Homo sapiens: one gene and its partners. The protein of the gene in region 1 purifies or fractionates together with the protein of each later gene. This does not show direct contact. Each region holds a gene or a part of one and is shown in the gene's direction. Other genes may lie near its edges. The genes, in order: PAGE4, TNKS2 and ALDH5A1.

Region 1 (3,752 bases):
ACTATTGAACCTCTCTTTTCTTTTGAGATCATATTGTACATACACAGTGCTACATAACTGGATGTTTCAAGTTAATAACTTAAAATGAACAGCACCACTATTACAGGAAATATTATTCAGCACTGGTTTTGGTAGTCACCCATATTTCATTTTCAAGTGTGCCATAATTTACTTATATAGCAAGTCCATGACCATGCTATTATAAATTAAGCTGTTTTGGAAGTCCCATGTATCCAAATTTTTGTTCACATGGTTAAAGAAAAAAAACATTCAGTGGTAGTTGTTAAAGCACAGTAAGGAAAACCTTATTTAGGACTGTGGTGATGGGTATAGGGACCATTGCAATGGGATCTTGCAGTGGGGGAGAGAGATTGGGCTCAATACTGAATACAGCGCAGGCCAGTGGGAATGTATAGCGAAGGAGCAGTATGGCGGTCCGTGGGTGGAAAATTACTAAAAGGAAACATCAGGGGTAAGGGGGATTCTGGCTAAACCCACCTAGCAGGATTCTTGCTGAAGACAGGCCAAGGGGAATCAGACATCACCTGGGGGATGGTGGAAGATGAAGAACCCCATGCGATAGCAAGTATGATCAGATATTGAGGATGGAGGGTTCATGCCACATTGACTTAGCAGGGCTCTTTGCTAAAACTGGGTTTTACAAGGAAATGCACAGATGGGCCTAGGAGGAGAAGTTTCAGAAGCCTGACTTAAAAGTTTGGCCAAGCAAGGAATATTTGTCAACATTCAAGACAGTTTCCTTAACATTAAAGTCCTAGAAGTAGAAATGCTGGGTCACAGGATTTTTTATTTTTTGAGACAGGGTCTTGCTCTGTTGCCCAAGCTGGAGTGCAGTGGTGTGATCTTGGCTCACTGCAACCTCAACCTCCTGGGCTCAAGCTATCCTCCCACCTCAGCCTCTCAAGTAGCTGGGACTACAGGTGTGCACCACCATGCCCAGCTAATTTTTGTATTTTTTGTAAAGACAGGGTCTTGCCATGTTGCCCAGGATGGTCTCGAACTCCTGGGCTCAAGAAATCCACCCACCTCAGCATCCCAAAGTTCTAGGATTACAGGCATGAGCTGCCGCACCTGGCCTGGATTTTTGTGCAAATGTTTAGGCTTATTTATGTATGTGGGTTTATCATCCTTCTCCTTTACATTTTTTTCTGGATTCCTATCATGCTTAAAATGGCTTTGCACTCTCTGAGAACCTAAGCTTTCACGCATCTCTGGGAAGACTGAATACCCTCTTAAGGGCCACTGAGGTAGCAGCACTGAGAAAAAATTAAAGGGTAAATTTGCAGGTGAAATGCAGAGCTGGGAACATTCCTAGATCCAGAAGGACAGAACATTTTGCAGGAGGGGCCAGAAGCCAGAAACAAGCCCTTCTCAGCACCGAGCAGGCCCTTCCTCCAGGTGGCACAGAGCCTCTAGGAGGCGGGAGAGGGCTGGAAAGACAACCCACGTGACACACCCCCGAGGTTTGGGATTGGCTGGTGGGGTTGACACTGCTGAGGTCTAAACAAGGAGGCAGAAGTAGGTAGGTGCCACTTCTCTTCCCTTCATTCTTCGCCAGGCTCTCTGCTGACTCAAGTGTAAGTGAGAACAGGTGTGAGTGAGTGGGCCGGCGGGCTTCTGGTGGGTCGGGCACTGTGGTCCCTGGCCTCAGAGAAGGAAGGGCCTCGAGGTCATCATCCTTCTCCTAGCAGGCAGCTATGCGGCGGGGCAGGGACAGGGGAGGAAGGAGGGCCATGAAGGGGAGGAGGGTCAGCCAAGATGCTGTGAGTTTTGGAGCGGGACACTATCTGAGTCCTGGAGGCATATGAAACTGTCCATAAAGGACGGATGCTGGGGTCCTCAGTGGGGGCCAGGGAAAGGGTGGGACAGCCCGCGCTTGACAGCGCCTGCCTCAGTGCTCGTGTTCACTGGGGGTCTTCCCATCAGCCCCTTCACCCACGAGGTGAACTGCCGCGGAGCTGTGAGGGTGCCGTTTGCATTCCAATTGTCGGGACTCTTTCACCTGAGACTGAGACTCAGTGGGTGGGTCCACCGATCGTTCCTCCATGGGAGTTTAAGTGTGAAGAGGAGCTGGTGGGCTTCAGGAGGGTCGGGCAGCACAGTCCGTGGCCTCGGAGGAGGAAGGGCCTCACAGGTGGTGGCGCCGCCATGACCTTGTGGTTGTGGCAGGGCTGGGGCGAGGGAGGAAGTTGGGCCACGGAGGGGAGAGGGATCAGATGGAGCAAAACTTGGGGGGTACTTTTTGAGGTATCTTTGAGTCCCAGAGGCACCTGAAACTGCCGAAAGAGGACAGGTTTCGGAGTTCTCAGTGGGGACCTGGGGAGGAGGGGACCTGGGGTGGCTGTATATTAAAAAATCTCTTCATAATGGAGTTTAGTTATGAAATTAAGTCTCTTTAGGAAAGACCCCATGTTTTGATCTAGGACTTGAAGATCACTTCTCTGCCGAGCTGGCTGTGGAAGAAACAAAGCAGTTTGCAGATAGATTTATTTGATGTGATTGGAAACCAGGCGTAGTTATTATTAACTCAGGACCTATTATGGAAATCTCACAAAATTAAAAAAAATTACAATCAGCAGATGGCCATGGAAAGAGTCAAGTATAATTACTCCTTTTTATTGCAGTCTTCAGTTCACGATCTTCTAGTTGCAGCGATGAGTGCACGAGTGAGATCAAGATCCAGAGGAAGAGGAGATGGTCAGGAGGCTCCCGATGTGGTTGCATTCGTGGCTGTGAGTACATTTCAGTATCTTATTTCCATTGGCAGAAATGTATTTTTCTGAAAGAAAATCTAAAACATTGTTAACCAATATAGATCTGTTATATAAAGGACTTCCCTGCTGAAAATAGTTGCAAACTAAATCACATTAATGAGACATTGAGCAAGGAGACTTATTTTCTGATATTGTCTGCATATGTATGTTTTTAAGAGTCTGGAAATAGTCTTATGACTTTCCTATCATGCTTATTAATAAATAATACAGCCCAGAGAAGATGAAAATGGGTTCCAGAATTATTGGTCCTTGCAGGTAACTCCTTAAAGTATATTCTATATAGGAAGAATAACTTTTCTTAAGAGTACTTACAGAGAAGATAGGAAAAACCTCTTCAGATTTATTTGTGACTAGCTACCTTCACATAGTATGTATATTTGTGACTTCTATTGCCATGATATTAATAACAATATTCTATTTGCATCTACTCTCCCCCACCTCTCAAAAGCCCGGTGAATCTCAGCAAGAGGAACCACCAACTGACAATCAGGATATTGAACCTGGACAAGAGAGAGAAGGAACACCTCCGATCGAAGGTGAGAAGGGCATGGAGGAGCATTTTGTGTTTCATGTATGATTTTATACTAGTAACAGGAATAAATAAACCATCCCCTAAAAATTGGCTGGAAACCTGTAAAGTAATCCTTGGTAAGGGAATAGTGTAGTTTTCAGCTGCTGTAGTCCTTGTGATAAATTTTCTCTTCAGCATTTTACTTATCTTATATCTTAAGAGTTCTTTGGCATACTTGGAAAATACAATCCTTGCCAAGACTCTATATTAGCAAACAAAAGGAAACTACATTAAATTTAGACAAAATTGTAAACTGTTTCATGAGTTAAACTTGGTTTTATTGGGATATTATTTTTCTGGGCATAAGTCATTGCATTAAAAGTTTGAGCAAACCATATATTATGGTTAGATCTTACATAGCAATTTTTAGAAAATGTCATAATTCA
Region 2 (3,652 bases), on another chromosome or scaffold:
GTTTTTTTATTACTGAACTAGATTGCATACTTTTCTTCTAGATAAATATTATTTAAGAAGTAATTCCTTAGGAGAAAAATGACTCTGTAAATTGTTTCCTTTTCAGTCCGCCTGCCACTGCCCCCGACCATACGCAGATATACACAAGACAGGAATTTTTCTTTTTTTTTTTGAGATGGAGTCTAGTTCTGTCTCCCAGGCTGGAGTGCAGCGTCACGATCTCAGCTCACTGCAACCCCCACCTTCCGGGTTCGACCGATTCTCCTGTCTCAGCCTCCTAAGTAGCTGGGATTACAGGTGCGCACTGCCACGCCCGGCAAATTTTTGTATTTTTAGTAGAGACAGGGTTTCAACATGTTGGTCAGGCTGGTCTCAAACTCCTGATCTCGTGATCCGCCTGCCTCGGCCTCCCAAAGTGCTGGGATTACAGGCGTGAGCCACTGCGCCCGGCCAGGAATGATTTTTTTCCAACACAACAGAATTTGTAGAGGCAAGTTGGTGGTAGGGTGGCTGTTGCTCTAATTTTACTAAAAGCAAAAGTATCTGAAATTCTTGACAGTTAATGCCCTAGAAAACAGCAAATTTCAGTAAAGAAGACTCTGCTTCTGTGAACTTATTTCTAAAAAGTAAAGAAGAGGTGACACAAACTTGGGGAGAAAGTTATCTTGATGCCCATCATAGAAATGAAAGAAATATGTGGCATTCCTTACAATCTTAGAACTCTTGGAGTAGGGGTAGGAGCTTGCATTGTAGAGTCCTAGCTAAACAAGGTAACACTTATTTTATATTTATAGTATGTTATGTTACTGTTAGTATGAGTATGCTACTGAACCACATACATAGGACCAGTTAGACCGGACTTGGATTATTATATTCAATTGTGTGAATCAAATATAAGAGGGGATTTTTTTATTCAGAGGAGGAAAGTGGAATCAGAGCATCCAGAATTTATTGCACAAGCATAGATACGAAAATTAGTGCTGCTTATTCTAGAGATGAAAGAAGACTATACCATGTTATCGTCTTCACATATGTGGAAGAATCACAAAGAGTGAGTGGATATTACTTGTGTGGCTTTGGGAGTCAAAACTAAGGCCAGCAGGTGGAAGGTTACAAGGGGTCAGACAACCTTTAACAATATTCAGCGATCGAACTGTCTGGAAGTATCCAAGCAGTGGCTGGATTGGCATTTTTCAGAGATGTTGTAGAGAGGATTTCAGCCTAGTTCGACCAACAGGTTATAATCTCACTAGTACAAGAAAGTGGGATGATTCCTCCAATTGAAGGCTTTAGCTGCTCAGCTACCAAAGATATACTAGCTTTTGTGATTGCCATTCATATCTTTTCCCAAAATGATAACCATTGGAGACCTCCAATAACCTCTCAGTAACATTTTCTTCTTTGGCTGTAGGCCAACATCATAGTTACAAGAGATGCACAAAATTTATCCAACACTCTTCACCTAGAACTACAGTTATAGATTGTTGTTTTCAGGATTGGTTTTTGCTATGGGAGATAAATCATACATCAGCAGGAAACCCTAGTGTCAAATAAAGATCAGTCTATTTAGGAATTCATCATCTTTCTTGACTTATCAAATCTCCCAATGTATTATCAAGACTTTGAGCTATACCTTTGCCCTCAGCGCTTGCTGGATTTGGAGGTAGACAGTTGACTTCAATAACAAGAGTTTGGAGTACTCCTTTCAGTGTACCCCCATTCAGATGGTCAAAATTTCATCACCGTAGAGGCCATGGCGTTCTTTTCCAAGTTTCTACTAATCTGGCCAGACAGTATGTCTATCCCAAGTTGAGATGGGCAAAGTCCTCTCCCTTGTATTCTTCGTTCTTAAGAAGTATATGTGGGAAATAATTTTCTGGATCTTAGCAAACTAAAGTTAATAGTAAATGAGGCCCGGGCACAGTGCCACAGGCTATAATCCCAGCACTCTGGGAGGCAAAGGCAGGAGTATCACCTGAACTCAAGAGTTCAAGACCAGCCTGGGCAACAATGGTGACACCTCATCTCTACAAGAAAATAGAAAAATGAGCCGGGCATGGTGGCACAGAACTGACACTCTGGGAGGCAAAGACAGGAGTATCACTTGAGCTTAAGAGTTCAAGAGCAGCCTGGGCAACATGGCGAAACCCCATCTCTACAAAAAAATAGAAAAAGTAGCCAGGCATGGTGGTGCAGGCCTGTAGTCCTAGCTACTTGGGAGGCTAAGGTTAGAGGATTACTTGAGCCAAGGCTGCAGTGAGCCGAGATTGCGCCATTGCACTCTAGGCTGGGCAACAGAGGGAAACCTTGTAACACAAAATAGTAAATGAGAAGTTTAAAATGACATTCCTCAGAAAAAATGTGTCACTGAGAGTCCTGGCTAAAGGTTGCTTGAAAGCTGAAGGCTGTTTGATTATACCTTCCAATCTCCCAGACTACAGGAGCTTTGTTTTGTGGCATTTGTTGACATTTTTCCAGAACTTTGCCTTTGGACAAAACCCTGTGTGATAGCCTACCTTTAGATATTGCAAGACATCACCATCTCATATGGGACCAATTGTGTTATCAGTGATTAATCCCACCTTTGGACTATGAAAGACAGGAGGGGGATAGCATTTAGTTAAACTTCCTAAGAGTCTAAGTTGGTTTCTCTGTAGGAACTTGACTGCCTCACAGCTTTTGGGAAACCATTCAGATGAAAGCATGTTTCCAGTGTAGCAGCAAAATGTGATATTATTAACAATAGTCATAGTTAGCAAGCAGTACCTGGAGTTGCTGAAACTGATGGCATCTAGATAAGTAATAAATTTGACAAGAGGCTGCTTTTCTCTGTTTTCACAAATCATTAACACCATATTCTTTGTGAGGATCCTTTCCTATTCCAGCAGAGTATTAGACATGCATTAAACAAATGTTTGTCAAGTCCTGCTATATGCCAGACACTGACCTTGTCCCTGAGTAAACTGAAATGAACAGGACACAATACCTGCCATTAACTGACACATGGTTAATGTGGTCAACAAGTATACTTTACAGATAGGCCTGCTTTGCTTCACTGTAAGTACTATATAGTAGATTCATACTCTGTGTATGGTTTCATCAGAATTTTCACAAGTAGAACAGTGTTTGAAGTTGAGTGCTGTTCCATAATTACAAAATAAACTACAGTGTGTCCTGAGCAGCCATGACTACCAACTTTATTTAGGCTTCTGGTTCCTCATAAAGAGATCCTTAGAATATGGAGATTTACATTGACTCTGATGATATGCCTATTCATGTTCTACCTGGCCAGTGAGAACATGATCAGAATATACCCTGCAGAGCATTTTTTCTTCCAGAAATTGGTGCTTAACAGAAGTACTTTGAACTATTCTTGAGACCATAACAATAGAGATTTTATCAAGGATTACTCCTCAGTTTGGGAAGTATGGTTTTTTGGGGGTTGTGGGGGTGAGGCACAGAGTTTCACTCTTGTCGCCCAGGCTGGAGTGCAGTGGTGCGATCTTGGCTCACTTCAACCTCCACCTCCCAGGTTCAAGCAATTCTCCTGCCTCCTGCTTCAGCCTCCCGAGTAGCTGGGATTACAGGTATGTACCACCACGCCTGGCTAATTTTTATATTTTTAGTAGAAACAGGGTTTCACCATGTTGGC
Region 3 (3,652 bases), on another chromosome or scaffold:
GGATTTAGGTGGGAGGCCACGGTGGCTTGAACCAGGGTGGTAGCAGTGGACAAGGTGAAGAGTTATCCCATAAAGGATGTATTTTGAAGGTAGAGCCCACTGGATTTTCTGATGGATCATTATATAGAAAGTAGGTGAAGGAGAGGGGTTAGTGATGACTCCAGGGCTTTTGGCCTGAGCAATTGGAAGGATGAGGATAGCTGAATTGAACAGCATTAGGGTGAGATATCAAGAGTTCAGTTTTAGACTTATTGAGTTTGAGATGTCGGTTCACACCCAAGAGAGGATGTAAAGTAAGCAGTTGGGTGTATGAGTCTGAGGTTTGAGAGCGAACCCTAGGCTAGAAATATAAATGTGAAATTCATACCTGTGTGTACTGCATACATACTTACAGCTATGGAAATGGTGAGATCACAGGAAAGGAGTGGACCAGGGCCTGAGCCCTGGTTCCCCTAGCATCATTCTGGAGTCCCACAAGGCCCCACGAAGATCAAGGCTGCCATACAATGGTGTTACACTGCAGGGGTCTGGAAAGCCTTCTAGTCTGTCAGTGATTGTTTGGCAGCTGCAGGGCGGGTGTTGGGACCTCTTGCTGACACTAGCAGCATTATCCTGTGTTCAGATCACACCGCCCATCCTAATGTCTGTGCCCCTTGAACATTACAGTGATGTCAGCTTCCATCTTACAAGGGCTAGGATCTTCTCAGGGAACCTTCCTTTTTGAAAGGAGGGGTTCAGGCTGGGCACGGTGGCTAACGCCTGTAATCCCAGCACTTTGGGAGGCCAAGGCGAGTGGATCACCTGAGGTCAGGAGTTCGAGACCAGCCTGTCCAACATGGTGAAACACTGTCTCTACTAAAAATACAAAAATTGGCCAGACACGGTGGCTCACACTTGTAATCCCAGCACTTTGGGAGGCTAAGGCAGGTGGATCACTTGAGGTCAGGAGTTCAAGTCCAGCCTGGCCAACATGGCGAAACCCCATCTCTACTAAAAAATACAAAAATCAGCTGGGCGTGGTGGTGGGCGCCTGTAATCCCAGCTACTCAGGAGGCTGAGCCAAGGAGAATTGCTTGAACCTGGGAGGCGGAGGTTGCAGTGAGCCGAGATCATGCCAACTGCACTCCAGCCTGGTGGACAGAGCAAGACTCTGTCTCAAAAAAAAAAAAAAAAAAGAAAAAATACAAAAATTAGCCAGGCATTGTGGCATGCACCTGTATGTAATCCCAGCTACTCAAGAGGCTGAGGCATGAGAATTGCTTGAGCCCAGGAGGCGGAGGTTGGTTGCAGTGAGCCGAGATGGCGCCACTGTACTCCAGCCTGGGTGACAGAGCGAGACTGTCTCAAAAAACAAAAATGAAGGTTTTTCTTGGCTTTGAATACACCTGTGCAGATGTGGGAAGCTACAGCCTGAGCAGCGCTCTCTTTAGAGTGCCTTGATGGCAGCCCAGGTGGCCTAGATTCTCTAGGCCTTCCTCATTTTCTTTTTTTAAGTGGTTTTATGTGAATGAATTAATTTTTTTTTTAATAAGCCATTTCTTCCTTTTTTCTTTTCTTTTTTTTCTGAGACAGGGTCTTGCTCCATTGCCTAGGCTGGAGTACAGTGATGCTATCATTGGCTCACTGCAGCCTCAAACTCATAGGCCTAAGCGATTCCCCCACCTCAGCCTTCTGAGTAGCTGGGACCACAAGCATGCACCACCACACCCAGATAATTTCTTTTCTTTTTTTTTTTTTTTTGAGACGGAGTCTCGCTCTGTCACCCGGGCTGGAGTGCAGTGGCGCAGTCTCGGCTCAACTGCAACCTCCGCCTCCTAGGTTCTCCTGCCTCAGCCTCCCGAGTAGCTGGGACTACAGGCGCCTGCCACCATGCCCGGGTAATTTTTTTGTATTTTTAGTAGAGACGGGGTTTCACCGTGTTAGCCAGGATGGTCTGGATCTCATGACCTCATGATCCGCCCGCCTCGGCCTCCCGAAGTGCTGGGATTACAGGCACGAGCCACTGCGCCCAGCCCCACACTCAGATAATTTCTGTGTGTGTGTGTGTAGAGACAGATCTCACCGCATTGCCCAAGCTGGTGTTGAACTCCTGGCCACAAGCAACCCTCCCTCCTTGGCCTTCCAAAGTGTTGTGATTACGGGCATGAGCCGCCACACCTGGTCCCATAATATTGTTAATAATCCAATGTATCCCTTTATCTGTTTTTTGTTCATTGGAATTTTTTAAATTATGGCAAAATATGCATAACATAACATTTACCATTTTAACCATTTTTAAGTGTACATTTCAGTGGTATTAAGTGCATTCATGTTGTTGTGCCTGGGCCCTCTTCTTAAGTGTGTAAAACCCTTTCTTATGCCTCATGCATGCCCCAGTCCATATGTCAGTCTCTGGGACAAATCCAGGTTGCCAGTGAGCCACTATAATAGGGAACAATACTTGAAGACACTATGCTGAGTGAAATAAGCCAGTCACAAAAGGGCAAATGCTGTATGATTCTACTTAATATGAGGTACCTAGAGTTGTCAGATTCATAGAGACAGAAAGTAGAATGGTCCAGGCATGGTGGCTCATGATTGTAATCTCAGCACTTTGGGAGGCCAAGGCAGGAGGATCGCTTAAAGCCAGGAGTCTGAGGTTGCAGTGAGCTATGATTGCGCCACTGCACTCCAGCCTGGGCATCAGATCAAGACCGTATCTAAAATAATAATAATAATAATAATAATAATAATAATAACGTAGGGAACTATATACCTTTGTATGGTAAAATTAAAGTTGTTCTTATTTACCATAAGCAATAATAGCTGTTTCCACAAAACTTATTTTATCTTTTATAATTTATGACGCAGTATACCTCTTTAGATGCAACTTGAAATTGGATCTCTATTACTCATCAAAGAAGGGTCAGTTAGCATGAGCAATATAGTGAGACCTTGTCTGTACAAAAAAAATTTTTTTTTAATTAGCTGAGCATGATCATCCTGTAGATCCTGTTAGCATGAAAAGTCTGTATGGCATGACAACAACGACTTTAAGGGGAAGATAAGATTTCTTTCTACTTCTAAGTGATGCTGTGATACCTTAAGCACTAAGGCAGAGCTAGTAATGCTTTTTTAGTTTCACAGATCAAAGTAATCTTATTTTAACAGATCAAGGTAAAATGCTTATTTTAACAGATCAAGGTAATCGTTGTAAGATGTATATAACATGATGTTAACTTGGTAGTCTAAGTGTTTAGCTATCAAGCCGGATTCCTTAGTAGACCAAATCTTGTTATCGAAGTGTTCTTGAGCTATACCCTTGATGTTTAGAAAAAAAGTATTTGTTACCTCTTGTAGGGTCTGCTTTTTGAACTTTTCTTCCCCTGTAGTTGCCAATTCTGCATGTACTAGTCCTCTAGAAATAGGTTAAACTGAATCAACTTGATGGAAGGAACTCTCCACAGGGCTTGTTTTCCAAAGAAAAGTATAGTTTGGAGAAGCAAAGTTACAAGCCTACCTAAGCATATCATAAAGCTGTTCAGAAATAACTCAGAGCCAGTCTCGTGGATGGAAATGTAGTGCCTGAGTCACATTCTGCTTAAAGTTGTAACAGACACAGAGGAGTTAAAAAAATAGCTGAGCGTGATGATGTGTGCCTGTGGTCCCAGCT

Evidence for each region.
Region 2: the proteins of PAGE4 (region 1) and TNKS2 purify together in Homo sapiens (affinity purification with mass spectrometry; 2 studies listed by BioGRID and IntAct, with this or other methods). This does not show direct contact.
Region 3: the proteins of PAGE4 (region 1) and ALDH5A1 purify together in Homo sapiens (affinity purification with mass spectrometry, with the first as the bait; one large-scale study listed by BioGRID). This does not show direct contact.

What each region holds. Positions count from the first base shown.
Region 1 is NC_000023.11:49,827,754-49,831,505, forward strand, and holds the start of PAGE4 (P antigen family member 4), read left to right. Parts: upstream 1-1,549; 5' UTR 1,550-1,598; exon of another isoform or gene 1,599-1,612; intron 1,613-2,645; 5' UTR 2,646-2,675; coding exon 2,676-2,753; intron 2,754-3,243; coding exon 3,244-3,331; intron 3,332-3,752. UniProt on the Homo sapiens protein: Intrinsically disordered protein that potentiates the transcriptional activator activity of JUN. Protects cells from stress-induced apoptosis by inhibiting reactive oxygen species (ROS) production and via regulation of the MAPK signaling pathway.
Region 2 is NC_000010.11:91,801,320-91,804,971, forward strand, and holds part of TNKS2 (poly [ADP-ribose] polymerase tankyrase-2), read left to right. Parts: intron 1-3,652. UniProt on the Homo sapiens protein: Poly-ADP-ribosyltransferase involved in various processes such as Wnt signaling pathway, telomere length and vesicle trafficking.
Region 3 is NC_000006.12:24,497,945-24,501,596, forward strand, and holds part of ALDH5A1 (succinate-semialdehyde dehydrogenase, mitochondrial isoform 2 precursor), read left to right. Parts: intron 1-3,652. UniProt on the Homo sapiens protein: Catalyzes one step in the degradation of the inhibitory neurotransmitter gamma-aminobutyric acid (GABA).